Linked DNA regions of Homo sapiens. The gene in region 2 interacts genetically with the main gene of each other region. Each region holds a gene or a part of one and is shown on either strand. Other genes may lie near its edges.

Evidence for each region.
Region 1: changes in VPS45 (region 2) and SLC39A9 together harm fitness less than expected from each alone (positive genetic interaction), as found in Homo sapiens cells (one large-scale study listed by BioGRID).
Region 3: changes in VPS45 (region 2) and IGF1R together harm fitness more than expected from each alone (negative genetic interaction), as found in Homo sapiens cells (one large-scale study listed by BioGRID).
Region 4: changes in VPS45 (region 2) and HNRNPD together harm fitness less than expected from each alone (positive genetic interaction), as found in Homo sapiens cells (one large-scale study listed by BioGRID).
Region 5: changes in VPS45 (region 2) and VPS51 together harm fitness less than expected from each alone (positive genetic interaction), as found in Homo sapiens cells (one large-scale study listed by BioGRID).
Region 6: changes in VPS45 (region 2) and EZH2 together harm fitness less than expected from each alone (positive genetic interaction), as found in Homo sapiens cells (one large-scale study listed by BioGRID).
Region 7: changes in VPS45 (region 2) and SEC23B together harm fitness less than expected from each alone (positive genetic interaction), as found in Homo sapiens cells (one large-scale study listed by BioGRID).

The regions. Positions count from the first base shown.
Region 1 is NC_000014.9:69,453,691-69,458,185, forward strand, and holds part of SLC39A9 (zinc transporter ZIP9), read left to right. Parts: intron 1-1,121; coding exon 1,122-1,207; intron 1,208-2,041; coding exon 2,042-2,176; intron 2,177-4,495. UniProt on the Homo sapiens protein: Transports zinc ions across cell and organelle membranes into the cytoplasm and regulates intracellular zinc homeostasis. Participates in the zinc ions efflux out of the secretory compartments.
Region 2 is NC_000001.11:150,090,781-150,095,275, forward strand, and holds part of VPS45 (vacuolar protein sorting-associated protein 45), read left to right. Parts: intron 1-1,156; coding exon 1,157-1,315; intron 1,316-1,521; coding exon 1,522-1,629; intron 1,630-2,746; coding exon 2,747-2,868; intron 2,869-4,495. UniProt on the Homo sapiens protein: May play a role in vesicle-mediated protein trafficking from the Golgi stack through the trans-Golgi network.
Region 3 is NC_000015.10:98,706,993-98,711,487, forward strand, and holds part of IGF1R (insulin-like growth factor 1 receptor isoform 1 precursor), read left to right. Parts: intron 1-569; coding exon 570-1,115; intron 1,116-4,495. UniProt on the Homo sapiens protein: Receptor tyrosine kinase which mediates actions of insulin-like growth factor 1 (IGF1). Binds IGF1 with high affinity and IGF2 and insulin (INS) with a lower affinity. The activated IGF1R is involved in cell growth and survival control.
Region 4 is NC_000004.12:82,363,399-82,367,893, reverse strand, and holds part of HNRNPD (heterogeneous nuclear ribonucleoprotein D0), read left to right. Parts: intron 1-4,495. UniProt on the Homo sapiens protein: Binds with high affinity to RNA molecules that contain AU-rich elements (AREs) found within the 3'-UTR of many proto-oncogenes and cytokine mRNAs.
Region 5 is NC_000011.10:65,102,303-65,106,797, forward strand, and holds part of VPS51 (vacuolar protein sorting-associated protein 51 homolog), read left to right. Parts: intron 1-4,495. UniProt on the Homo sapiens protein: Acts as a component of the GARP complex that is involved in retrograde transport from early and late endosomes to the trans-Golgi network (TGN).
Region 6 is NC_000007.14:148,811,050-148,815,544, reverse strand, and holds part of EZH2 (histone-lysine N-methyltransferase EZH2), read left to right. Parts: coding exon 1-39; intron 40-505; coding exon 506-631; intron 632-1,407; coding exon 1,408-1,586; intron 1,587-3,824; coding exon 3,825-3,920; intron 3,921-4,495. UniProt on the Homo sapiens protein: Polycomb group (PcG) protein. Catalytic subunit of the PRC2/EED-EZH2 complex, which methylates 'Lys-9' (H3K9me) and 'Lys-27' (H3K27me) of histone H3, leading to transcriptional repression of the affected target gene.
Region 7 is NC_000020.11:18,548,666-18,553,160, reverse strand, and holds part of SEC23B (protein transport protein Sec23B), read right to left. Parts: coding exon 4,391-4,495; intron 2,073-4,390; coding exon 1,986-2,072; intron 1-1,985. UniProt on the Homo sapiens protein: Component of the coat protein complex II (COPII) which promotes the formation of transport vesicles from the endoplasmic reticulum (ER).

The DNA.
Region 1 (4,495 bases), on a different chromosome or scaffold from region 2:
TGTTTGAGTGATGAAAATTTAGGTTAGGGTGATGGCAATAAAAAATGGAGAAAGGCAAATGTGACTGATGTTAGAATGAAGATAAAGTTGCAGGAGGCTGAGGAAGAGATAGACAATGACAATGATCCATCTCTTTTGTTTTTGTGCAACAGTGGCAGAATTGAACAGTTGCAAGAGACCAAATAACTGCAAAGCCTCAAATATTTACTGTCTAGCTCTTAAGAAGAAGTTTGCTCTTTTCATTCTTGGCTCTAGAATGTCATCTGGAAAAGAGCCTTGGCGCTTCTGTCCTGAACAGCTCTGTTACCAGTTTATATGCAAAACACCAGTTTAAGCAGAAGTGGTATGCAGTGGAATGCAGAGATCTTAGCATTGCTGACAGGGTACACTTTAGAATCATAACCCAAACCTAGTCCTAGTAATAGAATTCTGTCAGTGGCAAAGAAAGGCATGTGAAAGGTGGTACACTGTTACCTGGCCCTTTCTAAGTATAATATGCTTTTCTAACAAATTTCATTCATTCAACCAGTGTTTACTTATTAAGTAGTAATCATCTATATAGAGTTCTAGTATCTTTATTTTATTTATTTCTTTTTTTGAGACGGAGTCTCACTCTGTTGCCGAGGCTGGAGTGCACTGGCACGATTCGGCTCATTGCAAGCTCCACCTCCCGGGTTTAAGCAATCCTCCTGCCTCAGCCTCCCAAGTAGCTGGGACTATTTTGTTTCTTAACCTATAAGATTAAGAGATGCTTCCTTTGAAATTCTTCTTTGGTATTTCCCTTGTTAGAATTTGATTAACTAATCAATGGATTTTTGATTAGTTGGAAAATTGAATGTTAGTTTTCCAATAACAACAACAGCAACCAAAATAACTAACATTGAATACTCTGGGCCAGATGCTATGCTCTTTACATAAGTTATCTCATTTAATCCTCATGAAAACCCTAAGAAATACATACTTCATTGAACACATTTTAAAGATAAGGCTGGCATGTAGAAAGGTTAAGTAACATTACTAGATCCAGCTGGACCTGACTGTAAAGCTCATACACTCAACCACTACACTGTTATTGTTGTTGTTGTTTATAGTATTTTATGTTTCCTTGTTTCCAAATATAGCTGATGGTGTTGCTTTGGGAGCAGCAGCATCTACTTCACAGACCAGTGTCCAGTTAATTGTGTTTGTGGCAATCATGCTACATAAGGTAAGCAACATTTTGGTGTAAGGTTTGGTATTGAGTGTATTCATAATTAAAATTTCTCATGGTCCTTAATGTTTTTCCTGGAATGGGAACATTTTCTTCATTTCATAATTGCTATTCATTTTGGAAAATTGAATAAATCTGTTCATAGCTTCTTGTTCCCATTTTCTTAAGCTTTTCCTTGAGGGGTTTCAATTTTTTTGTGTAGACATATACACAAATTGTCAAATTCTCCTCAGATTTTTATATTTCATAGTAATAATTTCTGTTCAAAAGTATTTTTCTTTTCTTGACTGTTTCTCTTTTTTACTATCCAAGAAACACACAAATAGGATCTTTTCTTGGCTTAGAACATTAATTCCTAAGAGGCATAGCTCAGCGTTTGTACTCTGCCTGGTTTTGTTTTTTGGTTTTTTTTGTGTGTGTGTGGGTTTTTTGTTTTTTGTTTTTGAGATGGAGTTTGCTCTTGTCACCCAGGCTGGAGTGCAATGGTGTGATCTCGGCTCACTGCAACCTCCGCCTCCTGGGTTCAAGCGATTCTCCTGTCTCAGCCTCCCAAGTAGCTGGGATTACAGGTGCCCACCACCACACATTTTTGTATTTTTAGTAGAGACGGGGTTTCACCATGTTGGCCAGGCTGGTCTCGAACTCCTGACCTTAGGTGATCCACCCACCTCGACCTCCCAAAGTGCTAGGATTACAGGCATTAGCCACTGTGCCTGGCCTTTTGTGAGTTTTTCTTTGTATGAGAAATCATAGTCAAATGGCATATACTTCTTGATGTAGAAGCAACCCATACTTCTAGAATGATAATAAGAGATGATTTTTTATTTCCAGGCACCAGCTGCTTTTGGACTGGTTTCCTTCTTGATGCATGCTGGCTTAGAGCGGAATCGAATCAGAAAGCACTTGCTGGTCTTTGCATTGGCAGCACCAGTTATGTCCATGGTGACATACTTAGGACTGAGTAAGGTAAGCTAATCTATTCCCAGCTATCTAAACCAGTGTCTTGTGATCTCTTAGAATTTATGATCTCTTAGATTGAATTTTTCCAATACATTACTCTCTCAAACTAAAGATAAAATTAGGAGTAAAAACTATACAGGGTAAATATCTTAATTCCAATGCGTCCTCTTCATATTAGCATTTTCTTATTCATTTAATTTGAAAACTTCTTCCCTATCAATCAGTTCCAAGAATATTTGCATAAATATGATAGCGCTTCAATATTTAAAATAGTATAACGTAACCAGCCATGCTAGCTTCATTTGACAGATATCTAATAAGTCAAATCTGTCCATATTTAATGTGAGGTAGACACCTGAAGCGTGAGTAACAAGCCACATAGCCGCTTTGAGAAGAGCAGCAGCTGGGCAGAGATTGCTGTCAAGAGTTTAAAAAACTGACATTGATTACTGAAGTGATAGAGTAATCTTTTAAAGGGAACAACATACTGCTCACTGAAAGAAGAGAAGGCTTTTCAGGTAAATGGAAAGGGTTTTTATAACACACTGTTAGCAACTAAGATCAACAAACCCTTCCTTAACGGGAACTTAGCCATTCTTGGTCTCATTTTTCACGTTCCTCCTCTTCTCCCAGCTCTCACGTCCCCAGATAGTAACTGTACAGTTCTTTCTATTGAATACTTTGTACTGAACATAGCTTCAGACCTGAGGTAACATGTGCTCTTCTGACTCCAAGCTGGACCTTCCCATGCCTTATAATCCTGTCTGTAGCTCTGAGCAACAACCCTCCGCATTTTACCCAGATGTCAACTGGCAGGCAACTGGAGGAAAATCTTAGAAGCAAACTGACTCAGGGCTAGTTGATGGGAACTGCTTTCCCCAACACCCTCTCTAAAGGTCATTGATTCTTCTGAGCATCAGTCAATTCAGTATTTGGCAGTAAAACCCATATTAATAGGAACATGTGAAAAATGAGATAAAGAATGGCTAAGTTCCTGTTAAGCAAGGGTTTGTTGATCTTAGATGCTAAGAGTGTGTTATAAAAACCCTTTCCATTTACCTGAAGAGCCTTCTCTTCTTTCAGTGAGCAGTATGTTGTTCCCTTTAACAGATTACTCTATCACTTCAGTAATCAGTGTCAGTTTTTTAACCTTTTGACAGGAAGGTGCTGATAATTCTGGAGACATGGAGTTACTTGCTGCATCTATGGGATGTCCTTTTCTTAAAATTTTAATTAGTTGTCTTAGTCCATAGGTCTACTTTTTTAACAGAAAAGGTTGAAATTAGTTTTATAAAGATTAGCTTATGAGATATACATATATATACACACACACACACACACACACATTTTTTTTTTCCTTTGAGATGGAATCTTGCCTGTCACCCAGGCTGGAGTACAATGGCGCAATCTTGGCTCACTGCAACCTCTGCCTCCCAGGTTCAGACGATTCTCCTGCCCCAGCTTCCGGAGTAGCTGGGATTACAGGCGCCCGCCACCATGCCCGGCTAATTTTTGTATTTTTAGTAGAGACAGGGTTTCACCATGTTGGCCAGGCTGGTCTCGAACTCCTGACCTCGTGATCCGCCCACCTTGGCCTCCCAAAGTGCTGGGATTACAGGCATGAGCCACCACGCCCGGCTGCTTAAGAGATATTTCTAGGCTCTATGAGGTCAACTACTGCATCTTGATTACCACTGTATCTCAAGCACCTGGCCCAGAGCCTGGTGCATAGATGATGCTTGTTAAATATTAGTAGAATAAATAAATTTATGTCTGAAATTTAATATCTGCAATAATATATTGTTGATTCTATCTCAAGAATAATACAAGCCAAACCTGTTGAACCAGCACTTAAAGTTCGTTTTAAAAAGCAATTGTGAACCAGGAGCAGTGGCGCATACCTGTAGTCCCAGCTACTTGGGAAGCTGAGACAGGAGGATTGCTTGAGCCCAGGAGTTCCAGGCTGTAGTGTGTTATGATTGTGCCTGTGAATAGCCACTCAACTCCAGCCTGGGCAACATAGCGAGACCTCATCTCTAAAGACAGATACAGTCAATGAATGGATGGACAGAATGATGGAACTGTGGTGAATATAGTTTAATAATAGTGTGTGGTACATATCAAAATTGCTAAGAGTAAATTTCAGATGTTCTCACCACAAAATATGATAAATATTTGAGATGACAGATGTTAGTTTTATTTAATTAGTCCACATTTTATTCATGAATCATAATGTCACTTTATACCCTATAAATATATATAATTATAAATTGTTGATTTACAATAAATTTTTTAAAAAATCAATTGCGTACATCACTGATATTC
Region 2 (4,495 bases):
CTTCATCAATCAGTGTTTGATTGTTATTTTGTTTTGTTTTGCTTTTTTACACAGTGCAATATATTTGCATCCTTTTTATTTGCACTTGCCCTTTCCCCATATAGCATAACACAGTGGAAAGTGCAACAGTTCTTGAAGCTACAAAACCAGATACTTCTTGCAGAACACACTTCTGTAGGATTATCATCTTTTTTTCTTAAGGTATTGGTAAGGCTTCCCCTTTAATCATAAGAAAGCCTATCCATTCTGGAAAAATTACATGTGAACCAATATGCCTTCTGTGTTAAACTGACACCATTTCCATATTTATCCATCTCACAGAACTAAAGTACATTAAAGAAACATGTATATAGCAGAATAAATTATATTACTTTGATCATCCTTCACCCCATTGACTGTGAACTCACTGGGGACAGGAATTGTCTTTAACTTATCTGTGTGCCTGCAACAGTGCATGACATACTGCCTTATGGGGACTCAAAAGTATTTGTTGACTTGAATTAAATTATTTGTTCTGCTGCATAATAAATATAAATCTATACTATATGGAAGGTCCTGAATATGAGGATTAAAAAATGTAAACATGGCTTCTCCTGGCCCCCTTTCCTATCGGTACCTGCCTCTTAAAATCATTAAGTACTAAATCTAGAGATTACATGCTATTACATACTCATCTCTGTCAACCATGTTGAGACATGTTCTGATGCTTCTTAGAGATCAAGCCCAGTCTGTGTAAAATTCTACCAACTTGTCTCCATTTCACTGGTCAATCATTAATACTAAGAGAAAGCAGTAGGTTTTGCAAATCAACTAGTCAGTTTTGTTGTGCCGTATTGATTCAAGTCGTGGAAATAGTAAGTGTTCTTTCAGCAAGGAAATTACAACTTCAGCTATTGGAAAAGAAAAGTGGAACTATCCATTATTAAATTCATTTTTGTCCTAAAGCAATTACAATGGAAATATATTTCCTTATTTAATTCTTACCTTGGACAAAAGGCATTTAATTTTCTATAGTTGAGACAGTTGCTAAATGTATGACTTATAATTGTCATAGTAGTGATGTATCACTACCATTCAATAATTATTAGATCTAAGGCATTGTACAACAGATGACTCAAGTGAAAGGGGGATAAATATAAGTTCTATCTTTCTTCAGAATATAAAAAGGCTTCTGCAGAACCCCAAAGTGACAGAGTTTGATGCTGCCCGCCTGGTGATGCTTTATGCTTTACATTATGAGCGACACAGCAGCAATAGCCTGCCAGGACTAATGATGGACCTCAGGAATAAAGGTGTTTCTGAGAAGTATCGAAAGGTAACCAGTTTCCATATTAGCCCACCAAACAGGAACCAACTCTGTTATTATATTCTTAGCTCTAACGAATGATAAATCATACTATTTTTATTTACAGAAATGTATAATTCTGTCTTTTCATTTTTGTTTCCTTAATAAAATTATTTTCTTATGAAATGGGCTTCCTGATGCCTAAGCAATCAAAATTTGCTTCTCTTTCTTAATAGCTCGTGTCTGCAGTTGTTGAATATGGTGGTAAACGAGTCAGAGGAAGTGACCTCTTCAGCCCCAAAGATGCTGTGGCTATCACCAAACAATTCCTCAAAGGACTGAAGGTATAGACATCTCCTCTATGCTCTCCTGAGTGAGAACAGTTGAAGTCCTTGAGGCTGAGAGTGAATGAATATGATCTTCAAAGTATCTTGAAGATTGCTGCTAATTTAGTACTGTGTCAGTTAAATGAAATTAAAACTGGCATCCTCTTGAAAGCTTTTTCTTTTAGTGCTTTCTGTCTTAGAGCCGTATCAACATTGGACCAAATAGCTTAGCAGGAAATAACTGGAGGTATTTCCAGGAAATAAGAAGAAAAAGACCAACAGTTCTGTTAGTCACAGATATTTTACACCATTTGTTTATAATTAAAGATTTTTTAGGTAGTTTCTCTTTGAAGGAAATTAAAGATGAAGCAAACTTTTGATCTTTTAAAAATACTAACCTGTTTTCTTAAAATACTCAAAAATTAATTCTAATCTGCTAGCCTTTCTTTTTTTTTTTTTTTTTTTTTTGAGACGGAGTCTCGCTCTGTCTCCCAGGCTGGAGTGCAGTGGCGTGATCTCGGCTCACTGCAAGCTCTGCCTCCCGGGTTTTACGCCATTCTCCTGCCTCAGCCTCTCGAGTAGCTGGGACTACAGGCATACACCACCTACACCCGGCTAATTTTTTTTTGTATTTTTAGTAGAGATGGGGTTTCACCGTGTTAGCCAGGATGGTCTCGAACTCCTGACCTTGTGATCTGCCCGCCTCGGCCTCCCAAAGTGCTGGGATTACAGGCGTGAGCCACCGCGCCCGGCAGCCTTTCTTATGTTTCCTGAAGTTTTTCTATTTTCCTGGGTATTTTCAGTCTTTTTTATACATAATCCTTTCCTTTTATTTGCTCTACCTATCATTTAACATTTCACAAAAGGGTGAGAGACAGTGAAGACATGATTAAGGATTTAAGCAATTCCATTTTTAAAAAATCCTTTACAATAACTAGCCCTAAATTACAGAGTAATTTTTATGAGATTAGAACATTTCTAGCTGATTAAAATAATTTTTAAATTTCCCACAGTTACGTAAATCTATCCCATGAAATCTCTATTGAGTGTATGTCCTTTTCTGATATGAATATTATTAATTCTTGTGTTGCCAATTTCCCAAAAATGACATAAGAACCATTTTCCCCTGTTTTAGGGAGTAGAAAATGTATATACACAGCATCAACCTTTCCTACATGAAACCCTGGATCATCTCATCAAAGGAAGGCTTAAGGAAAACCTATATCCTTATTTAGGCCCCAGCACACTCAGAGACAGGTAAGCTAACAAAGATATTAATAATAAAAGCCAGAAATACTGAACAAACAGAAAATTTAGAGTAATGTTAAGGACTAAAGCTGAGGTTATAGCATTCTGCTGCTCCTTTCTTCTGTTAAGATTCTTTTGGTTTTACATATGTCAGCATTAGATATGAATTCCCCTGCTAAGTCTGAAACATTTATTTCTTTTGTACTAAAGAAACAAGTGTTTTGGAGAGCCTCAAATCCTTCTGTATTTCAGTATCAGACCAGTTTACTTATGCCATTTAAGGTTCTGTTCGATGGCATCTGGCATTTGGTGTTTCAAACATTGAGGCCAAAAATAGGCTTGCTGCTTGATTGCCATCCAGAGCAGGTTGTTACTATTTTTGGTGAGGACTGGACTTTGCCAAATGTTGCCAGCACACAAACTGAGAGACCTAATTAATAAAGGCCATTTGTTACACAGGAGCAAAGGATGGCTTTCTTTTTGAGTATTAACTAAAGGAAGCAATAATTGTCATCTTAATCCAGTGGTTAATTTTTAATAAAAACAAAACTTGTCCAGAACAACTTATTTAGGCCAACCTGAAATTTTAAATACTGTATACATAAATTCTACCTAGTTAAAAATTATATATTTTTTTTGTTGGAACACATGTTATCTAAGGGGCTAACATATATACTTGAATCCTATTGGATAGATTAATGTGAAAATTTTACTGTTGACATAATTCTTCTATTATTTCAGTTAATAAACATCTAAGAGCCTTGGAAGTATAGTGTTTTATAAACATAATGAGATTCTGAATGAGAAAAATGTTTTGAGATACATAGGTGATTCTTTTATGTGATAAAGTGTATTTTTTCACTTTGTCCTTTAAAAAATTTTTTTCTGTAATTTGGTACAGAACAGAAAAAAAAATCATCTTTTAAAAGTCCAAGGTTGAGATGCAGAACATTTGGTGTTAAATTCAGAGAGTACACTCATTCAGATAAAATGTTTAAAGACCTTGGGATCAAGATTCAGAAATGTCAGCTAAGTGGGAAGAATGAACGCCAGCCCAAAGTTATGCACCTATCTGAGAGGCTTTTTAAAAAACAACTATTCTTGAGCTTTTGCATTAATGTGATAAATAAAAACATTTATTTGCTTATGAATTTTTATAAGAATTACTGAACAAGGAATTATTTATTACCAAAGGGAAACCACAGGCCACCGGAAGAATATACTGTATATGATCAGTACACAGCAGGAAACCTTTCTAATTTACATAATTCATTCCCACACAAAGCTCAAAATTATATTCCTTGAACAAAATGCACATTTATCAGTTGTCAACATCTGTTACCATTTGTCACTATAACCTAAGTATGCATATAGTTAATAATTCAGTTGCTTTGTCCTTTTACACAACAGATGTTGATTGAATGCTTTCAGTATGTTAAGAGCTGTTGTAGATGCTGGCGATATAGAAGTGACAGGAAAGACAAGGTACCCGCCCTCAAAGAACTTACATAGAGACAATGAGTAAACAAGTAAACAAATGAAGAATATAATTTTAATAAGTGCTATCCAGGAAATAAATAGGGTGATGAGCTTCAAAGTAATTGTAGGGGTGGGGAGGACTACTTTAGATGGAGAG
Region 3 (4,495 bases), on a different chromosome or scaffold from region 2:
CAGTCTACTCGGCTTATGTCAAATGGTAGTGGGAAGCATGGAAGCATGCGTTTTTTAGTCCCCACTTTACAAGTCACAGTGACGGTTCTCCAGTGTAGAGTAGATTGATTGCCCTGTGTCCTTCAGGCAGGGTGCAGTAGTAAGTTATTGATACTTGGCTGCTGAGCTGTCGTTCAGGCCTTGGCAACTGACGCTCTGCAGAACGGACCAGGAGTGTGCGGTGGTGGAGTCCGGCTGGCCTGGGTTGCAGATTTAACTTTCGCCTCTGCCTCTGTGTGCCTCTGGGCTGTAAGCTTTAGTTTGCACGGTTAACGGGGATGGCCTCTCCCATGGTCGGTTGGAGTGTGTTGCACAGCGTCTGGTCCAGTGTTGGCACTGTATAAATGCCAGCTAACTGGTTAGCCACCTAAACTGTCAGTCTGCAACCCACAGCTCTGCAGTGAACAATTGAACCTCATTTCTTTAATAATAATACAGGATTCCTGAAAACCAACTGTATTATTGTTTGGAAAATAGTTTAAAAATTATTTCCTTCTAACTGAGACGTTTACCCTCTTGTCTCCCTTCAGTCTGCGGGCCAGGCATCGACATCCGCAACGACTATCAGCAGCTGAAGCGCCTGGAGAACTGCACGGTGATCGAGGGCTACCTCCACATCCTGCTCATCTCCAAGGCCGAGGACTACCGCAGCTACCGCTTCCCCAAGCTCACGGTCATTACCGAGTACTTGCTGCTGTTCCGAGTGGCTGGCCTCGAGAGCCTCGGAGACCTCTTCCCCAACCTCACGGTCATCCGCGGCTGGAAACTCTTCTACAACTACGCCCTGGTCATCTTCGAGATGACCAATCTCAAGGATATTGGGCTTTACAACCTGAGGAACATTACTCGGGGGGCCATCAGGATTGAGAAAAATGCTGACCTCTGTTACCTCTCCACTGTGGACTGGTCCCTGATCCTGGATGCGGTGTCCAATAACTACATTGTGGGGAATAAGCCCCCAAAGGAATGTGGGGACCTGTGTCCAGGGACCATGGAGGAGAAGCCGATGTGTGAGAAGACCACCATCAACAATGAGTACAACTACCGCTGCTGGACCACAAACCGCTGCCAGAAAAGTAAGAATGATGCTGACTGCTGCTTTCTCTCTGCCTCTCTCTCTCCTCTCCTCCTCCTTGACCTCCCTTCTCTTCTGAGTGCACGAGTTCCGCTGGGCAGGGTGCAGTCGTGTTGCATTTAGGACGTGGCATGCCTGCTGTGCGGAAGTGGTTCCCAGTGGGGGTCTTGGTTGGCTTTCCTTTGCATCTGGGACTCTTGGATTGCGGGACTGTGGCGTGGCTGGAGGCCATCATGGCTGCTGTCAAGACTGTTCAAATCACATGTTAGAAATAATCCAGCACACTCCTGGGCTAGACACTTGCTGACCTTCAGCTTTGAATTCCTGATGAGAAAGGTGACCTGGTGTGCTTGGAAGTCCCTGAGCCTTGGCAGCTGGGGGCTGCTTATGTGTCAGCTCTTTCATCCTTTGTGCGAAGTGATATTTTTTGTTCTGCAGGACTTCCTTAGTTTGAATGGACTTGGAATATGGTTAAATAAAGGGAAGGTAAAGCACTAACTCATATCCTGTGAAAGTGGTCCTTAGGTCCTAGTGATGATGTTATGATACTCAGGTGTCCTGGTTATGACAGAGCACCTGGCCCAGGTGGGAGACCTCTGGACCCATTTCTGCAAGTCCCAGGTTCAGGCTGTACTTGCAGGTAGCTGTGTAGCAGGGTGCATTTTTAAACCTCTGGGATTCTGTTTTCGTTCTTTTATACCTGTTTACTGAACAGTTGTGAAAATCTTAAGATTTCACGAGTGAAGGAACTTTGGAAAGTATTTACTGTTCTGGGGGTCAGATGGTGGTATTTTGAAGCTTCTTGTATATTTATCTGCAATATGCTTATTTTCCCTTGAGAATAACTGAGCTCTTGCCTTCATGTGATCAGTTCCTTAAGAACCAGGCTGTTTGGTATTAAAATGTGACTCTGAGCCTTCACCTTATTGCATTCAGCAATAGTTATGTATATTGGCTAGGAAGCTTTTCCTCACTGGTTTGAAGTCAGTGTGTTAGCTATAAATAGCTATTATTTAAGTGTTGGCCCAGTTAAAGATGTAAGGAACCCATGTTCTCTAGTTATGAAGAACCAAGAAACCCCAAATTGTTAGACTTGCCTAAAATAAATAAAAGGCGAGACCCCACAGGGGTGAAGTGTGTAAAGTAAATAAAGGACAGACCTCCCAGGTAGCCCTTCAGTTCCCGTTCAACCAGTCCTGAGGCAGGAAAAGGATCTGTGTACCCTGATCTGCCACGCACTTTTCTATTCTGCAGAATTGGATCAGTGCGTATGTGAACATTGATTAGTGAGGGCAGGGGTCCCACTGGCTGCAGCCAGTACCTTGTAGAGCTCTGAGAATGCAGTCAGGCCACTTTAAGGTTGGCTGGAGTTGGAGGGAGATCTTATGCTAAAGTCACTTGTGTGGTTGATTAAAACTGCCCTATCATTAAGTTACCCACTGGTTTGAGAAAACAACAAAATATATTTTTTAAATAACCTTGACATTTAAAAATTTTATCTGAAAAGTAAAAGGTGTTATCAAGGGAGGCAGCATGGAGTAGAAAAGAGATGTTGAATGTGGTGATGAGGGCCAGGAATGACCTTGGATGGGCCAGCCCTTCTGGGCTGTAGTTGGGCTTTTTTAGGATATTTCTAGGGCAGTCCAGTACATCCCTTAGTGGTGATCATATATGGGCATGAGGATGTTTTGAAAACTCATAAGCTCTTTAGAGAAGGGAGGTGCCATATGAAACGTCATTAAGTGGAGAGTTGTTCACGAACTAGGTAGGTAGTTACTTTGGTCTTGCCATAGGTTTTTGGCTGTTTCTGATGAGCTACTGATTGAAGACCCCTGGGGTAGGGGTGAGGCCTGCATTCTGGGTCCAAGTCTAAGAGTGGCGACTAGAAATGAGCAAGTTATTTAAATTGCCTGGGCCTTGGTTTCTTCATATGTGGAATGGGGTAAAGCCTGCCTTCCTCATAGGGCTGTTGGAAGATGAAAAGGAGGAAGGAAAAGCACCGTGAAAATGTTAACGATGGTTAGAAGGTGGGCTCTGCTGGTGACAGACAGAGCCTTGATATCACCTGTTGGTTGGTCACCTGCTTCCCCAAGGCCACGCCCTGCAGCCTTCTCCTTGACCATCCCAGCCCTGCTGATGTTCCTTGTGATTTCACAATGGAGTACTTATATAAAATTGGTAACTGCTTTCCGGGAAATTGACTTCCCTTCCCCTTGTCCTGAAAACTCAGGCATGGGCATATTTCTTGGAGATTTTCTAGTTGAATCAGAACTTCCTCTTGGTTTGCGTAGATTCCATTTAGACCTGCATTGTCCAGTGTGGTAGCCGCTTATTGAGTAAGCCACGTGGCTTATTGAGTACTTGAACTGTGGCTTGTCCGAATTGGGACTGCTTTAGGTGTAAAATATACACTAGATTTCCAAGACATAGTATAGCAAAAACTCTGTACACCATTTCATTAATAATTACTATGTTGATAACATGTTGAAATATAACATTTTGGATATATTAGATTAAGTAAAATGTGTTCTTAAATTTCACCTGCCTGTTTCCTTTTTATTCTTTTTTTTTTTTTTTGAGGCGGAGTTTCGCTCTCATCACCCAGGCTGGAGTGCAGCGGCGCGATCTCGGCTCACTGCAACCTCCGTCTCCTGGGTTCAAGCGATTCTCTTGCCTCAGCCTCCCAAGTAGCTGGAATTACAAGCATGTGCCACCATGCCCGTCTAATTTTTGTATTTTAACTGGAGACGGGGTTTCACCACCATGTTGGCCAGGCTGGTCTCAAACTCCTGACCTCAGATGATCCGCCCGCCTCAGCCTCCCAAAGTGTTAGGATTACAGGTGTGAGCCACCATGCCCGACTCTTTTTAATTCTTAATGTGGCTACTTGAAAATTTAAAATTACAGATGTGGCTTGCATTCTGTGTTGGTAAGCTGCTTTAGAGCATTTCTTTTAACACCAGGAGTTCTTCCCCTCATCATCTTTTTGGCTGAGTCGTCACTGCAGCGCTCATAGCCCCGCATGTACCTCTCCAGCCAGAACCCTTAGGAATCATTTGGGGAGCTCCATGAAGGGCATTGAGTCCAGGCAGAATGGCTACCTTGAGTTCAACATAAGCATTAAGATGGCCATTCGAAAACATTAAGCACAGAAGAATCCCATTCAGGTAATCTTCTGTTGGCTGGCTGTAGAACTACGGAGAACATCTGGAGAAACACGTCAAGGGTGTGTGTGAAATCGTTGAGCCTACTCGATTTTGTCGTGCTGTTGCGCGGTTTTCACTTGGCACTGTCCTTTAAACTCCTTCTGTGCCGTGACTCTGCAGTGTCTGGCAGCGTAGTAGACTCTACTCCCTCTATGGACGTGATCCCTCTGTGGGT
Region 4 (4,495 bases), on a different chromosome or scaffold from region 2:
CAGGAGGATTGACTACATAGCCTGCTTTCATAGCTTGTGTGTATTTATCCAGTGCCCTAATAGTTGATACTGCCAGTGATTTACTCCTGTGGAGTAAAGGTAAGCATGTTTTAGTTTCTGGAGTATTATATTGTACGTTGGAGCTAGGTATTTAAGAATATTTGGGGGTGGGGAGGGAAGACTCCAATTTACTGGTGGTGCTTGGCCAGTAATCAAGGTGACAGTTTAAGTATTGGGTCTTGCACTGTAAACTCCTGCTTATCTAGACTTCAGACTACCACAGAGCCCACACAGCCAGGAAGTCTGTCTCCCCATTTAGTCTTATGAGCAAGATAGATGAAGCCATGAGAAAATATACTCAAAAAGCAACCAACAGACAATGTCATGGAATGAATCTCCTACAGATTTTTCCTTACACTTTTGAAAAGTAACATGATTTTAAAACGTTGGAAAATTCATCAAGGTACAAATCATTTTCTGACTTCAGCATTGATACCTAAATTGATTTCCAGTACACAGTTTTATAGAATTGTGAATATGTAGTAATCTCAGTTAACCAGAACCTTAACCTTCAGGTTAAGGAAAATACCTATTCCTTAACCTCTAGGTAAATGGGAGTTTACCTTACAAAGCTGATTGAGAGCTTATTTAAAACGTAAACATACAAGATGTCATTGCTTCCTTGTAGTGAAGTGAAAAGGAGGTATTGGATTAAGCATTTAAAGTTAATTAAAGTAGTGGCTCGTGCCTGTAATCACTGGCTACTCAGAAGTCTTGAGGTATGAGGATCATTTCATGCCAGGATTTCTAGACCAGCTAGGCAACATAATATGACCCCTGTTTCTTTAAAAAAAAAAAAAAAAAAAAGGCTAGTGTGTTGGGGGGTGTGTTTGTAGTTGTAGTTACATCTACTCAGGAGGCAGAGGCAGGAGAATGTGTTGAGCCCAGGAAGGAGCTCAGGGCTGCAGGAAGCTATGATGGAGCCACTGCATTTTGATAGTGAGACCTGGTCTCTTAAAGTGTTTTATTTTTAGGCCAGGCGTAGTGGCTCACACCTGTAATCTCAGCACTTTGGGAGGCCAAGATGGGTGGATCACCTAAGGTCAGGAATTGGAGACCAGCCTGGCCAACATGGCGAAACCCCAGCTCTACTAAAAATACAAAAATTAGCCAGGTGTGGTTACATGCGCCTGTAGTCACTCAGGAGGCTGAGGCGGGAGAATCACTTGAACCCTGGAGGCGGAGGTTGCAGTGAGACAAGGTTGCACCACTGCATTCCAGCTTGGGCAACAGAGCAAGACTCCGTCTCAAAAAAAGAAAAAAAAAGTTTATTTAAAAAACTGTCATGTTGGCCGGGCGCGGTGGCTTATGCCTGTCATCCCAGCACTTTGGGAGGCTGACGCAAGCGAATCACCTGAGGTCAGGAGTTCGAGACCAACCTGGCCAACATGTTGAAACCCTGTCTCTACTAAAAATACAGAAATTAGCCGGGCATGATGGTGGGCATCTGTAGTCCCATCTACTTGGGAGGCTGAGGCAGGAGAAGAGCTTGAACCCGGGAAGCAGAGGTTGCAGTGAGCCAAGATCGCGCCACCGCACTCCAGCCTGGGCGACAAAGCGAGACTCTGTCCCCCTCCCAAAAAAACTGTCATGTTTCATTTATTAGATGTTTATTTTTTCAACTTCGCTTTTTAGTAGTCATTTAGTTAGGTTCATTCTAAAGTGTGAAGTAATGAGATTTAATACAGAGAAGTCTCTGAAAATGTTTGGTCCATTGTATATTAGTCTTGAATAAATGGAATTCTTTTTCACACTTACCTTGAAAATGTCATCTGTAGAAAGCTGGGGGAGAGGAATACCTATTCTTTAATGATGGGGAAATAATACCAAAATTTATATTTTTATTGACTAAAGTGTTTTTTGGGGAAGATTTGTTATTGGCTAACCTTAATGTCTCATTAGTTTTAAATAGTTAAAAAAAGTGGGCTGGGTGCGGTGGCTCACGCTTGTAATATAGCACTTTGGGAGGCTGAGGTGGGCAGATTGAACCCAGGAGTTCCAGACCAGCCTGGGCAACATGATGAGATCCTGTCTCTACAAAAAAAAAAAAAAAAAAAAAAAATTAGCTGGGCCTCGTGGTGTGCACCCATAGTCTCAGCTACCCAGGAGCTTGAGATGGGAAGATTGCTTGAACTTGGGAGGCAGAGGTTGAAGTGAGCCAGGATCACACCATTGCACCACAGCCTGGCAATAGAGCGAGACTCTGTCTCAAAAAAGTGGTTTTCATGAATTTTATACCAGATCAGATCTAAAAAGGCTGGTTAGTATTTGAACTCGATGAAAGCTTGTCAAGCTCTCTCCCAAGGTAGTTTTCATACAACTTGTAAAATACCCTAACGTGTGATATTATCTAGTTGCATTGTAACCTCCTCCCTTCCCCTTAGGTAACTAGTGACTTAGCTTTAGTTTGTCATTTTAGGATTTTAGAAGAATAATTATGATGGATAAAATACTGGAAAAATTCAGTAAGGATTTAATGGTGTGCTTGAGTAACATTACTTTAAAAGATGACAGTGATTGGTCATTTATGTTTTATACCTGAAATGTATATCAGGTTGACATTCTGTTGTATTTTTTAAACTGTCAGAACTTGTTATAAAGCCATGTATGTAAGATCATAAGTTGTTAGGAAGTGTTTAAAAGTTAAAGGATTGGCTGGGTGTGGTGGCTCATGCCTGTAATCCTAGCACTTTGGGAGGCTGATCGCTATGTCCAGGAGTTCTGTGACTAGCCTGGGTAACAGAGCAAGATCTCGTCTCTAAAAAAGTAAAAATAATACGAAGTTATAGAACATAGAAAAAGAATACTATTCCAAAATTGGGAGTGAGTATAATGGCTAACTTTTTACCTTGAATAAGGTGTTTGACAATAAAGACTTATTAGGGGAGGTATCTTGGAATAAAATAGTTAATATTGACTGGGAATGTTAAAAACCTAGTGACCTAAATAGTCCAGAGAATAAGTTTATTGATGGGGAAAAGCCAGGATTATTAAATCGGAACATTTTCCACCAGCCAGGATTGCTCCATGTATATTTCCTTTTATGTTTTAAATTATTCTTTACTAAAATTACTGGCATAAATGTAGGGTAGACCAAGTCATCAAGGTGATTTTGGAAGCTACATTTAAAGGGTCTTAGTTGAAATACCACCTAATTTTTAGTTTATATATTTTTTTACATGGACTATTTAAAAATTTCTGGGTTATTTCAAGTTGGCAGCATTGAAAATATTAGAATATGTTTATATAAAACTCATTGTGGCCTTTTCCTTTTAATGTTGGAAAGTTTATAAAGCCTATGCAGTTTTAAAAAATTAAGCCATTGAGTAAATAAAAAGTTTGCTTTATTAAATTATGTTTAGATAGTGCTTATAGTGCTTTACCCCTTCAAAATAGTAACTTCTATCAATCATTTAGGATGTGTGTCAGACTATTCTGTGTCCTTTAAGTGTGTTAACTAGTTTTAACCCTCTGCAAATATCTGAGGTATGCTCTTTTTACAGATGGGAAAACAATCTTGGACTTTAATATTTTTTCTTAATGTTACACAATTAGTAAGAGGCAGGGGGCCAGGTGGAGTGGTTCATGTTTGGAATTCCAGCACTTTGGGAGGCTGAGGTGGGCAGCTTGAGCCCAGGAGTTGGAAGACTAGCCTGGGCGACATAGTAAAACCTGATCTCTGCAAAAATATTAGCCGGGTGTGTTGGTGGGTGCCTGTAGTCCGAGCTACTGGTGAGGCTGAGGTGGGAGGACCAACTGAGCCCAGGAGGTCAAGGCTGCAATGAGCTGTCATGGAGCCAGTGCACTCCAGCCTGGGAGACAGAGTGAGACCCTGTCTTAAAAAAAGGCAGCAGTAGGGTTTAAACCCCGGCATTTTGTCTTTATTGCCTCTAAACTTAACTTGCTTTAAAAGATGATAAAATGTCCCACAAAGGAGCCTAAATTCCTGAATGATACTGCATATCACTTGGATAGTTATCTATGCTGAGTTGTATAACTTTATGCTTGTCATTTAATTTTACAATTTGGTGGAAGCCAATGTGAAAGCAAGGAGACTTCTGTTGTGGAGTAGGTGTTTTAAACTGAATACCATATTCAGCCTTGGGGTGCTGAATATTTAGTTCACAGCTAGGATTAAGATACTCAACTATGTTAATAAAATACAGTAGATGAAGTCCTGCATTTTAATTGGGATTGATTCACTTAGAACTAAGGATCAAAGTTTAAACTTATTGCAGCGTTAGGGGCCATCTTTGTTGCTAGTTGAACAAGTCTTGGTCGTTTTTAACATGGCTCCTTAGGGTATTTTCTGAAGTTCTGTCTACTTCATTGGAAAGTGTTTGCACTACGCAGGAGTGACAGCAATATGAAATGCTTTGTATTCAAGGCAGCAGAGGTAATCTGGACAGACAGTACATGTGCTTTAAAAGCAAGA
Region 5 (4,495 bases), on a different chromosome or scaffold from region 2:
AGCCTGCTTTTCTTAACAAGCTTGAAATGCAAAGATAAACAGTGTAGTCTTTGTGACTGAATGGTGTGGATGCTTTCACTGTTGTTTTTGGATATGGTACAACTTTTATCTCCAGTGTAATGGCTCCATGGCTGGGAAGGCAGCGACAATGACAGCACACAGCACTGTTGGGTTTTCTTTTACTCTATTTTCCTAACAACTTAGTGTTTGGATTTTACCCTTTAGAAGTTGGATTCAAGCTTCCTTCTTGAGGTAGCCCCTAAGTGTCATGGGCTCAAACACCCACTACCAAAAGAGTCTGCTCTTTTCATGGTAGCTTTTGGCAGACCTGGAAGGAGATTGTGTCACATGGCCTGTAAACAAAACCAGTAATTCACTGGGTGAAGACCAAATGCCTCATCAACTGCCAAGCCTCTGTCTGTCTCCCTTAGATCAGTAGCCCATGATCCCTTTACGAACCTCAGCCTCGGCTCTGCTTTTATTGTTTTTCACTGCATAGCGCTGCCTTTGCTATGTCCTTTAGTTCACCATCTATGAATTGGCAAGAAAAATTTTCTTGCCAGGCACAGTGGCTCACTCCTGTGCTCCCAGCACTTTGGGAGGCTGAAGTGGGAGCATTGCTTGAGCCCAGAAGTTTGAGACCAGCCTGGGCAACATAGAGAGACCCCATCTCTACACAAAATTTAAACAAAAATTAAAAAATTAGCCGGGTGTGATGGCGCTTGTGTGTAGTCCCAGCTACTTCAGAAGCTAAGGTAGGAGGATCACTTGAGCCCCAGAGTTCAAGGCTGCAGTAAGCTGTGTTTGCACCACTGCATGCCATCTTGGCTCACTGTAACCTCCGCCTCCCCAGTTAAGGTGATTCTCCTGCCTTAGCCTCCTGAGTAGCTGGGATTATAAGTGTGCATCACCATGCCTGTAGACAGAGCAAGACCCTATCTCAAGCAAAGAAACTCAAAATAATTATGATTTCCCCAACAAAATGCAGGCAATGGTCCCTATGGTCCCAAAAGTAATATAGATGTTTCACATCATGTGATTTTATTCCTTAGTAACCTTCCTTTCTATGAAATCATCTCTAAGAGGGCTAAATGATCCTTTCTTGTGGACTGTGTTGTTAAAATGAAAAGTCCATTTTGCTGATACGTAATCTACCTTTCCATGTAATTTTTTAAAAAATCCCTTAATAGCTCTACAGATGTGAGCCCTGTAGATTCTTTGTCTCAGACAGTTCTTTCTCTTATATTTTCTCTAATATTTTTTTCCTGCATTTTTTGTTTCTGTTTGTTTCTTGTCAAATTGACATCAATGCTTTTCTCCTTACTCACCCTTCCAGCTGTCTCCCCAAGTGGGGTAGATTCCCAGTGTTGCTTGGAGAACATTCCTACAGTCCCAGAGCCACACACAGACCAGGTGTGGGTGTGTGAAGGCTCACAAGTGATTGCAGTTAGATATTTCCAGATTCTTCTTTGTAAATGCTGATCAGTTTGCATAACCACCAGCAAAGAAGAGAATACCTCTTTCAATCTTTGACAATCTGAGAAGTGAAAAGTGGTATCTCTTATTGTTTATAGTAACGTTTACAGGGTGTTTTTTTTTGTTTTTTTTTTTTAGGGCTTTCTATTTATTCAATTATTATTATTTGAGACAGAGTGTTGCTCTATTACTCAGGTTAGAGTGCAGTGGCACAATCTCAGCTCACTACAACTTGTGCCTCCAGGGTTCAAGCGATTCTCCTGCCTCAGCCTTCCCAGTAGCTAGGATTACAGGCACCTGCCACCACGCCCAACTACTTTTTGTATTTTTACTAGAGACAGGGTTTTACCATGTTGGCCAGGCTGGTCTCAAACTCCTGACGTCAAGTGATCTGCCTGCCTCGGCCTCCCAAAGTGCTGGGATTACAGGCATGAGCTACCGTGGCTGGCCTATTTATTTGATTATATCATCTGCAAATAGTGATACTTCTCCCTCCTTTCCAATTTGTGTATCTCCATAATACATCTCGTGACTCTAGCTGAGTTGGCTAATGCCCCAGAACAATGTAGATAACATTGGCAATCAAGGTTGTCCTTGCCATGTTTTGACTTTAATTGGAGTGCTTCTAGCACTGCCTCGGTAAACATGATACTGAGTTTTGGAGGTCAGGGAAATATTTAGCTGCTCATATGTTATTGAGAGTTTTTTAAAAATCAAGAATAGATGTTGAAATATCTATTAACATGGCAAATTATTATGAGATCCTCTAATTTTGAGTCATCCTGGCATTCATGAAACAAAAACCCTTTTGTGTTTATCAATTATTATTTTAATATGCTGCTGGATTTTGTTTGCTTATTTGTGCATCTCCATTTGTTTATTTAATTCATCCTTGCATCTCCATTCATAAGAGATATGAATGTGTATATGTGAGGTATTTCTGTTATGTTTTCATAACAGTGTTATGTTTGTTCCATCAAGTTTGTGTGAGAGCTGTTCTCGTTTCTCTGCTGGGGCAGTGTTTACACAGAGAATTGGAAGGCGCTGTCCTTCAAGCCGCCGCAACACCCCTGGACATCTGGGCCAGATGCCTTTGTGTGGAGGGGAAAGGGGAGTAGGACCTTTCTTTCACAACATTCTCTAGTTTTTCTGTTTCTGTTTTCTTGTTTTTTGCAATCCATTTTGGTAAATCCTATTTTTGTAGCAAATTATCCATTTCATCCATAGAATTCACCAAGCCCTTACCAATTTAGTGTTTTCTTGGTATTTTACCCATGCTGCAATTTCAGTTTTGATTTCCTTTTCTGACCTCATAATTGGTTAACAATGAGGTTTTTTCGACTGGGCACGGTGGCTCCCGCCTGTAATCCCAGCACTTTGGGAGGCCGAGGCGGGTGGATCACTTGAGGTCAGAGACCAGTCTGGCCAACATGGTGAAACCCTCTCTACTAAAAGTACAAAAATTAGCCAGGCATGGTGGCACGTGCCTGTAATCCCAGCTACTCGGGGCTGAGGCAGGAGAATCGCTTGAACCCAGGAGGTGGAGGTTGCAGTGAGCTGAGATCGCGCCACTGCACTGCAGCCTGGGCGACGGAGGGAGACCCTGTCTCAAAAAAAAAAAAAGAATGAGGTTTTTTTCTTTGTGATCTACCATATGGAAAGGTTTGTATATATTTTATGGCATTGTTTGGGAAAAATGCAAACTGTGTGCTTCCTATGCTCTCACATCACCACAATCATGACCACAGAAGAGTTCTGTGACCAAATGTGTTGGGTTTCTTCCCCACACACCAAGCAGCAGACACCCGCTGGGTGTCCTCTGATTTAATTCCAACACTATTTACCCAGAGATAGCATCAGATTCCATGAGTTGAGGGCTGAGTCCCCAAGCCTGCCTCCCTTCAGGCACTAGTTCAGTCCCAAATCTGCCTCCCCACTTTCAGGCACTAGCTGCAGGTCAGGGCCTCAGGCCTCCAGAATTTCTGACCAACTGGCTCCAGGTAGGGGTTTCCATAACTCCCTCTTTGGGCTCAGTTTGCTGGAGTGGCTCACAGAGCTCAGGATAACACATTTACCAGTTTATTACAAAGGATGTTACAAAGGGTACAGATGAGCAGGTGCATAGGGCGAGGTGTAGGAGAAGGAGCATGGAGTTTCCATGCCCTCCCCGGGCGTGCCACCCTCCAGGAGCCTCCAGAGCTGAGATCGCGCCACTGCACTCCAGCCTGGGTGACAGAGTGAGACTCTTTCTCAAACAAAACAAAACCAAAATATCTCCTGTTACAGATACACATTTCTGTCTTATCCTCTTCGCCTTTCTTTATGAACATTGTTGGTATGTTCAATGGAATTAGGGAAATTAGTTGGGAAATGTTGGCAGTTGTTGGACAAGAGATGATAGTGGCTTACAAAGAAAATGTTGCAGGTAGACCTTCCATGACTTGGTAATGGATTGATTACTAGGTATATTAATCCAGGTTCATACTGCTGTAAAGAACTGCCCGAGACTAGGTAACTTATAAAGGAAAGAGGTTTAATTGACTCACAGTTCACAGCATGGCTGGGGAGGCCTCAGGAAACTTACAATCATGGCAGAAGGTGAAAGAGAAGCAAGGCATCTTCTTCACAAGGCAGCAGGAAGGAGAAGTGTTAAGCGAAGCAGGGAGAGCCCCTTATAAAACCATCAGACCTCGTCGGGTGCGGTGGCTCATGCCTGTAATCCCAGCACTTTGGGAGGCCAAGGTGGGCGGATCATGAGGTCAGGAGATCAAGACCATCCTGGCTAACATGGTGAAACTCCATCTCTACTAAAAATACAAAAAATTAGCTGGGTGTGGTGGCAGGCACCTGTAGTCCCAGCTACTTGGGAGGCTGAGGCAGGAGAATGGTGTGAACCTGGGAATTGGAGTTTGCAGTGAGCAGAGGTCGTGCCACTGCACTCCAGTCTGGGCGACAGAGCGAGACTCAGTCTCAAAAAAAAAAAAAAAGAATAGGTGGAATTGAATTGAGGCCGTCAGTG
Region 6 (4,495 bases), on a different chromosome or scaffold from region 2:
TGTGGGCTGCACACTGCAGAAAGATACAGCTGAAAAAGGGTTAGCATCTTTCCATTCCTCTCATTATTAGCTTAACAATATCTGCTTTGTTTTCATTTGTTTTAGAATAGTAACTGGATTAGAGCTTGGGTTATTCTAATATAATTGCCTTCTGTATGTTAAACCAATTTGAATGGAGGACGTCTACTGATGAATCCCCAGTCAATTCTCTTCTGTAAAGTGGAGGCTGACTGGAAGGTGTGAGTCCGAGTCAGTTGAAGGAGAAGTGCTTTGGGATGGGACTGAGATGTAGCCGTGCTTTAGATGGAACTCATAAGCACTTGGGGGTGGGAGAGTATTTTTTGCCATCGTTGTGGAAACCGGAATATGTGTAATGTTATGCATTCAGTAAAGGCAGGCCAGCTACACTCCACAGGTAGTAGGGAAGAATGTACTCGTGTTAATTGTGTATGATCGTTTCCATCTCCCTGGATTCATTGGCCTGCATGATGTTATCTTTACTCAGACGGCTCCTCTAACCATGTTTACAACTATCAACCCTGTGATCATCCACGGCAGCCTTGTGACAGTTCGTGCCCTTGTGTGATAGCACAAAATTTTTGTGAAAAGTTTTGTCAATGTAGTTCAGAGTGTAAGTATTTGTTGCTTTGATGCAATTGCATGAGAACTAAATAGGTCTTTGGTTAGCAATTTAAAAAATCAAAAATAAGAACATGGGAGCACTCCCTTGTTTACTTGACGAAACTCATCAATTTGACAAGTATTTATTGAGCCCCATACCTGGCCCTGTGCCAGTGGCCAGTCAGTCGCCTGGGTGTTGTGTGTCTGTGTGTGTGAGGCAGGCAAAGTTGTATTAAAGGAACCTGAATTTTATTTTTTTCTTCTTTGATCATTTAAATTAAGTTGTATTAAAGTTGGCACAGATTGTAAGAGGAATCTAGAAGGAGCTACCCAAATAATTTTTGGGCACCAGAAATCGTCAGAGTTAGGAGGGTTTTAGTCTTCAGATTAAAGGAATGTAGCATAAACATAGTAGATTTTTATAATTGTTTAATGAGACTGCACATGAAGCTTGGGTATTAAGGGAGTGTTTAGAACTAGGGGCTATTGGAATGGTCAAGGACCATGGATATTGTTCCATCCAGACCCTTTATTCACACCGACTTTAAATATATACACTATTTAACAAATGAAAAATGGAAAAACAACTCAGTGGTGGTCTTTTTCAGTGCAAACAGCTATAACTTCGCTGTTAATACTTCCATTTCCTTGTCTATATAGTAGGGTAATAAGGTGGTTGTGAGGGTTGAGAGTCAGTGAGATGCCCAGTACAGCCCTTGCCACGTATCTTTCTGCAAGTTTTTGCATACGGTGATGAGTGAAGAACCTCCAAACCTCTCTCTGAAGGTCAAAACCGCTTTCCGGGATGCCGCTGCAAAGCACAGTGCAACACCAAGCAGTGCCCGTGCTACCTGGCTGTCCGAGAGTGTGACCCTGACCTCTGTCTTACTTGTGGAGCCGCTGACCATTGGGACAGTAAAAATGTGTCCTGCAAGAACTGCAGTATTCAGCGGGGCTCCAAAAAGGTGAGCAACAAGTCACTTCTGGAAGATTGTTTGTAGTTAGCTATTTAGTGATGCAAATGTCAGGATTGCCTTAGATGATTTAGCTGGGGCAAAAAGTAAAAGTGATCCTTGAAAGGTGCAACTGATGAGAAAGTGTTCATAATTTTCTCTGGGTAATGCACCCTTGGGCAGTCTCTTCAGTTTTATATAGAGCACCATACTCTGATAGTAGGAGAAACCAGCAAATTCTGAGAAGTAGCCATTCATGGTATCAGATTTAGGAATAAGAGGTATTTTTTCTACCTGTTTAATAGATTATTTGAATTTGTCTTTTAGTTAATAGTTTATCTAGTATCCTTAATGCAAATAAATGGTGATTTCTATCAAAATATAGACTCATTCTCATCAAAGAGTATTTATAGATTCCTTGCTATGTAGAGTAAAAGATGAAATTTCCCATGGCAGGTTTTTATAGACTTACTTCCTGTTTGTTTAATAACCTTGAAAAAAACCCAGCTAGGAACTATATATTTTTAGTCTGGGGAATTGTATGTAGGTGAGTTAACTCTATCAGCCAGGAAGTAATGATTGAGCAAAAGACACTTCAGCAGCATGTATTTGGGAAATTTCGTATCTTTTTTTTTTTTTTAGGGCAGATGATAAGTTCTTTCTTCAGTCAGTTCTTTTTATAATAATAGCTGACATTTATTAAGCATGTAAAAATAGGCACTGTTGTGAGTGCTTTAGTGGATTTGTTCATTGATTCTCCTAACCCTGTGAGTGAGGAGTAAGTGTTAACCCCCATTTTACGGGTAAGGAAACCCAAAGTCACAAGACTTGTAAAGGAGCAGGAGATCAAATCCTCCAGGCTCCCATTAACCTGCTCTTATGCTCTGTGTGTGTGTGTGTGTGTGTGTGTGTGTGTGTATGTGGGGTGTAGAGTAGACATATCTTTGTTGTTGGACCATTTATTTATAATTGAGAACACACTTCTTACCAGCAAGTCCCCTTCTACCAGAAATTCTGCTCCAGGCAAAACATTGAAGTTCTCTTGGTTTTGTTTGTGTCTTTGAACCAAAGTCTGTGTTTATGGCAGAGAGTTGTGCAGGGTGGTGGGCTTTTTGTTTTTAGCTTTGACTTTTTTCTTTTCTGTTAGACATTTAGATGATTTTACTCTAGGCAGTTATATGTCCATTTAGGTCATTGGATCACAGTGACTCTGGTTCCGTTTCCGATGGCATACCTGCTCAGACCTAAAAATCTCAATTTCCCCCCCAAACAACTTACCATTGTACTCCTTCCTCACTTTGTTCAGAAAGTGGGCAATTCTATTCATACTGACATGTCCTCTTTGTAAGACATTTTTTAACTCTTAAAAATGTTAAACTATGTAGATACCTTTTACCAGTTGGGTTTCATTTGCATAGCAGTATTTAGCTAATTTAGTTTCTGATCAGAAGGCTATTTGGGAAGTTCACATGACAGGTGAGTGGTAAGATGGTCCAGAATAGGAATAGATAGGAAGCCTTTGTAAAGGTCACAAGAAAATTTTGGATGAAAGCATAATACTGAGCCGTGATGAAAAATTGGCATATGTTGGGGAACACATCCCTAAATACATAATTTATAGCAATGATCATCTTGGCATTTCTGCTGAAAATAGACTACTGGACTGACAAGATCATGATAACACCTCCCGGTAGTTTCTTGTGTTATCCTGAGGAGGTGGGGTGGAAGAACAAATCCAAAGCCAAGCTGCTATGGGCTTCAGAGGGAACCAACGCCAGTGAAGAATCAGGGGGTGTCCTGGGGCTGAAAATGGAATAACTATTAATAGAATCACTTGGGGAAAGTAGAGGGAAAGGTATGGAGAGGAAGAGTGATTTGGTGGTGTCCTTATATTAAATTCAGGTTGAAAGTGAATTACTCGAGGAAATCAAGGGCTGAAGATACAGGGAAGCCAAAAGTGCAGCAGGCCTAGAGCACCTTGCTGAACGATGGTCATTGCAGAGGACCAACACCACCAAAAGGTTTTCTGTAAGACAGAGATTCTTATCTGCTGTATAAGGAAAACATAATGTTCATAGCCATTCTCAGCAGCTTTCACGTTGACTGAAGCTGTGTGCCCAATTACTGCCTTAGAACAAACAGGTCTGAGGATTTACAGTGATAGCTTTTGTTTTCATTCTGTAGTCTACTTTGTCCCCAGTCCATTTTCACCCTCCTTTTTTGATGATGTGATTGTGTTTTATTCTCTAGCATCTATTGCTGGCACCATCTGACGTGGCAGGCTGGGGGATTTTTATCAAAGATCCTGTGCAGAAAAATGAATTCATCTCAGAATACTGTGGAGAGGTAAGGCACTGATAACCTGTATTCAGGTGGCATTGTATATACTAACTTTACTTTATTTTAGATTGATTTTATTAGGTAAGTCTGTGGGTTTGATTGGAAATGAATTGCCATAAACTGCCTTTTCAGCCTGGACTTCTGCATGTTTGTGGATTTGCATGCTTAGTAACTGGATTGTGCTGGGCGCGGTGGCCGACTCCTGCAATCCCAGCACTTTGGGAGGCCGAGGCAGGTGGATTGCTTGAGCTCAGGAGTTGGAGACCAGCATGGGCAACATGGCAAGACCCCATTGCTACAAAAAATGCAAAAATTAGCCGGGCGTGGTGGTGCATACTTGTAGTCCCAGCTACTTGGGAGCTGAGGCAGGAAGATCGCTTGAGCCTGGAAGAGCCTGGGAGGTTGAGGCTGCAGTGAGCCATGTTTGTGCCACTGCACTCCGGCCTGGGCGACAAAGTGAGACCCTGTCTCAGAGGGGAAAAAAAGCAAAACAAAACAGGATTGCTTGGTTCTAGCCACATTTAGTTTTTCTCGTCTAGGGACAACAGGGAGAACAAGAGCTTTACCATAGAGTGGCCTGC
Region 7 (4,495 bases), on a different chromosome or scaffold from region 2:
ATCCTTAGAACCCCTCACTTGCACAAGAAGGTGCTCAATAAACAAGTGAATGAACAGGATCAGGGGTTGCAAAAGAAATGTCGATAAGGAGATGAGCTTAAGGCAAAGAAAGCTTCATCCTTAGTACAGTCGGCCCTCGGTATCTGTGAGATTGGTTCCAAGACCACTCCTCCCAATACCAAATTCCATAGATACTCAAGTCCCTCATACAAAATGGCATAGTATTTCATATAACCGATGTACATCTTCCCATACACTTTAAATCATCTTTAGATTACTTATAATATCTAATACAATGTAGAAACTATATAAATCGTTCTTGTGCTGTTTTTTTGGTTTTGTTTTTTGAGACAGAGTCTCACTCTGTCGTCCAGGCTGGAGTGCACTGGCTCGATCTTAGCTCACTGAAACCTCCACTTCCTGAGTTCAAGCGATTCTCCTGCCTCAGCCTCCCGAGCAGCTGGGATTACAGGTGTCTGCCACCATGCCCAGCTAATTTTTGTATTTTTAGTAGAGACAGGGTTTCGCTATGTTGGCCAGACTGGTCTTGAACTCCTGACCTCAGATGATCCGCCCACCTCGGCCTCCCAACGTGCTGGGATTACAGGCATGAACTACCACACCCGGCCTGTGCTGTATATTTTATTTGTATTATTTTTTATTATTATTTCAAAATTATTTTTAACCTGCAGTTGATTGAATCTGCAGAGGTGGAACCCGTGGATACAGAGGGCCAACTGTACTGATACCAAAGGTTCCAGTGGGAAGAGCAGCTGGTCATCCGGCTCTCAGTCTAGGACTATTACTGACAGCCTAGCACTTGCGTGCAAGTGGCTAGCAGACTGGGTGTTAACATGCTGAAAAAAGTTTAAAGTTATAAAATACTTAGGAGTATTAGAAAACTAACACTTCCTAAGTTACTGAAGGAATCCTGAAACACAATTTATATCTTTTCACGACATCAGAAATCATTTCTAATGGTTGGCCATTAGGAAACCAAATCAATAACCAATTTAAGAAGGTAGAGATCATACAATAGAAGAAAAAGCATCACTGAATATAAATATCACCATCATCTTCATTAAAGGATTTTTTGCCATAAAGATGCAAATAATTCAGAGGAGCCATTCCCTTTCTCAGGGCATGAACCCCACTGAGAAAGAAATGGACTGAAAGCTATCCACAGCCATCCTAGGGATCCACAGACACAGCGTAAAGTTCCCTGGGCCATGTTATTTCATCAAAGTACAACCTTAGCTCTAAACACTAACTCTGAAAGAACAGCAGTATGTATATAACTCTGAAAGAACAGCAGTATGTATAAAATATTTACTGAGGAGAAAAAACTAGTTTTGCCTAACTTCGAAGGTAATAATTTACAGTGATTTAAAATAACCACCTGAGATTTTTTTACAGCATATATTATTATTATTATTATTTATTTTTTGAGATGGAGTTTCACTCTGTTGACCAGGCTGGAATGCAGTGGTGTGATCTCAGCTCACTACAACCTCAACCTCCCGGGTTTAAGTGATTCTCCCATCTCAGCCTCCCAAGTAGATGGGACTACAGGTGTGTGCCACCACGCCTGGCTAACTTTTGTATTTTTAGTAGAGATGGGGTTTTGCCATGTTGGTCAGGCTGGTTTTGAACTCCTGACCTCAGGTGATCTGCCCACCTCAGCATCCCAAAGTGCTGGGATTACAGGTATAAGCCACTGCACCTGGCCCATACTTAACAGCAAATATGATTAAAATTAATAAATATACAAATACTCCAGGGATTTACTAGAATAAAAGCCATGGTGCTTTCTAAGCCCAAACTGTGGTTACAAATGTCATTAAAAACCTAACTTAATAAATAAGAGAAGAAAACAAAAACCATAGTTAAGGACAATAATTCTCCTTGTGTGCACATTAAATGTGTATGCCTTTTCTCCAATTTAAAAACAAAAAGAAATTAATTAATTAATAATATCATCTTACCTCACCAAGATAAATGACAATTTGAAAGAAAGTATCCATCAGCAAAATTCTGTCAGCTAGAATGCTGCTGCTATCCAAGAGTACTGGCTGAAGAAAAAGAGAGAGAAAGATGGCATTGGTCTTCCCTGCTCCCCACACAGCAACCACTTCCACCCGACCCTGATCCCATGCCTGGTATCCACAGCAAAGGCTATTTACAAATGGTGCCCAGCACAGTAAGTCACCCCTTTTCTTCCTGACATACTTCCACTTTCTGCTTCTGACTCATTCTCAACTTTGTAGGAAAAATAGGCTCCAAATAATTCCTCATCAATTGAGAACGGAGATTAATGATACCTTTTTTTTTTTTAAGAGTCAGGGTGTTGCTCTGTTACCCAGCCTGGAGTAAAGTGATGTGACCCTGGCTCACTGCAGCTTCGACCTCCTGGGCTCAAGTGACCCTCCCACCTCAGCCTCCTGAGTAGCTGAGGCTACAGGTGCATGCCACCACGCCCAACTAATTTTTTATTTTTTGTAAAGACAGGGTCTCACACTATGTTGTCCAGGCTTAATGATATCTTTTGATCTTGGAACGAAAAATAATTCTGAATATTCTCAGTTTTGTATGTATTTTAGCAATCTCTACAGACATTCTCTGTAGATGAGACAGAATACGGATACCTATATGAAAAGCAGCATTTAATACAAGTTTTTAAAGTTTACTACAAAATATAAATTATGGCTGGGCGTAGTGGCTCATGCCTGTAAACCTAGAACTTTGGGAGGCCAAGGCAGGCAGATCACTTGAACCCAGGAGTTCAAAGCCAGCCTGGGCAACATGGCAAAACCCCATCTCTACCAAAAACACAAAAAATTAGCCGGGCTGTAGTGGCACGTGCCTGTGGTCCCAGCTATTCAGGAGGCTGAAGTGGGAGGATCACCTGAACCTGGAAGGCGGAGGTTGCAGTGAGCCAAGATCGCACAACTGTACTCCAACCTGGGTGACAGACACCCCATCTCAAAAAAAAATACGTTTATTATTTATTTGTAAGTAATATTTTATATTATATAAGTATATAATTTATATTTATATATACATATATAATCATATACATATATATTTATATACATAGTTCTTATATATACATATATAATTTATTATATTTACATATACACATATAATTTTTATATATGTAATTATTTCTTTTTTATTTTTATTTTTTGAGAGGGAGTCTTGCTCTGTTGCCCAGGCTGGAATGCAGTGGCGCGATCTCAACTCACTGCAGCCTCCGCCTCCGGGGTTCAAGTGATTCTCCAGCCTCAGCCTCCCAAGTAGCTGGGATTATTGGCGCCATTCCAAGCTAATTTTTGTATGTTTAGTAGAGATGGGGTTTCGCCACATTGGCCAGGCTGGTCTCAAACTCCTGATGTCATGTGATCCCCCTGCTATTTTAGTAATTATTTCAATAATAAAAGTAAGTGGTACTCGATAAAGAAAATTTTTAAATGTGTACCCAAGTACAACAAATATTGATATTTTGTTTTTTTCCATATAGTTCTTTATTTTTGCAGGGAATATTTAGAAACGTTTCTATTTTGACTTTTTTTCATGTAACATTTTTACATAAGGACTTATCTATTTTATTATGTTACATACTTTTTGTGAATACTGTTGGCCCTCCGTATCGGTGGGTTCCACATCTATAAATTCAACCAATCTTGGACTGAAAATATTTGAAAAAAATATGCATCTGTACTGTACATGTACAGACTTGTTTTCTTGTCATTATTCCCTAAACCATACAGTATGACAATTATTTACATGGTACTTACATTATATTAGGTATTATAACTAATCTAGAGATGATTTAAAGTATATAGGAGGATGTGCCAAGGTTACATGCAAATATTATGTAATTTTATATTAGTAACTTGAGTATCTAAGAATTCTGGTATCTGAGGGAGGTCCTGGAACCAATCTTCCATGAATACTGAGGGTCAACTGCATTTCTCAGGTTACTTATTTATTTTCCTATATTAAACATTCGGATTGTTATTTGATCCTCTATTATAGTAGTTCCTTTACTATTTTTTTTTTTGGCACAAAGTCTACTCTGTATCTAGGAGTCTTTCCTTCAGATACAAGACATGGAATTGTTGGATGTAAGTATACAAGCACAAGGAAAAAGAAAGCATCCAAGTTATTTCCTAGAGTTTTTTACATTTATTCCTGCCTTTCACAAATAATAGCTTTATATGTCCTTTGACATTTTCCTAAAGGTATTTTTTAATAGAAATAATGTTAAATTACTATAAAAACTCCAAATTTTACTTCTTTTTTACAGTTCTGCTAAGTAAATTTGCTTAAAAAAGAATATATGTTAGGTGATTCCAATCCTCAGGAAAGCATTTGGGTAGAGCCTCACCTCTGGTGGCCCATGAAAGGAGTAAGAGTAGAGAATGGGCTGGATCATGATGAGGGACTGGGTCAGGTCCTGCCGGGCAAAATGATGTCTGTAATATGACGACTC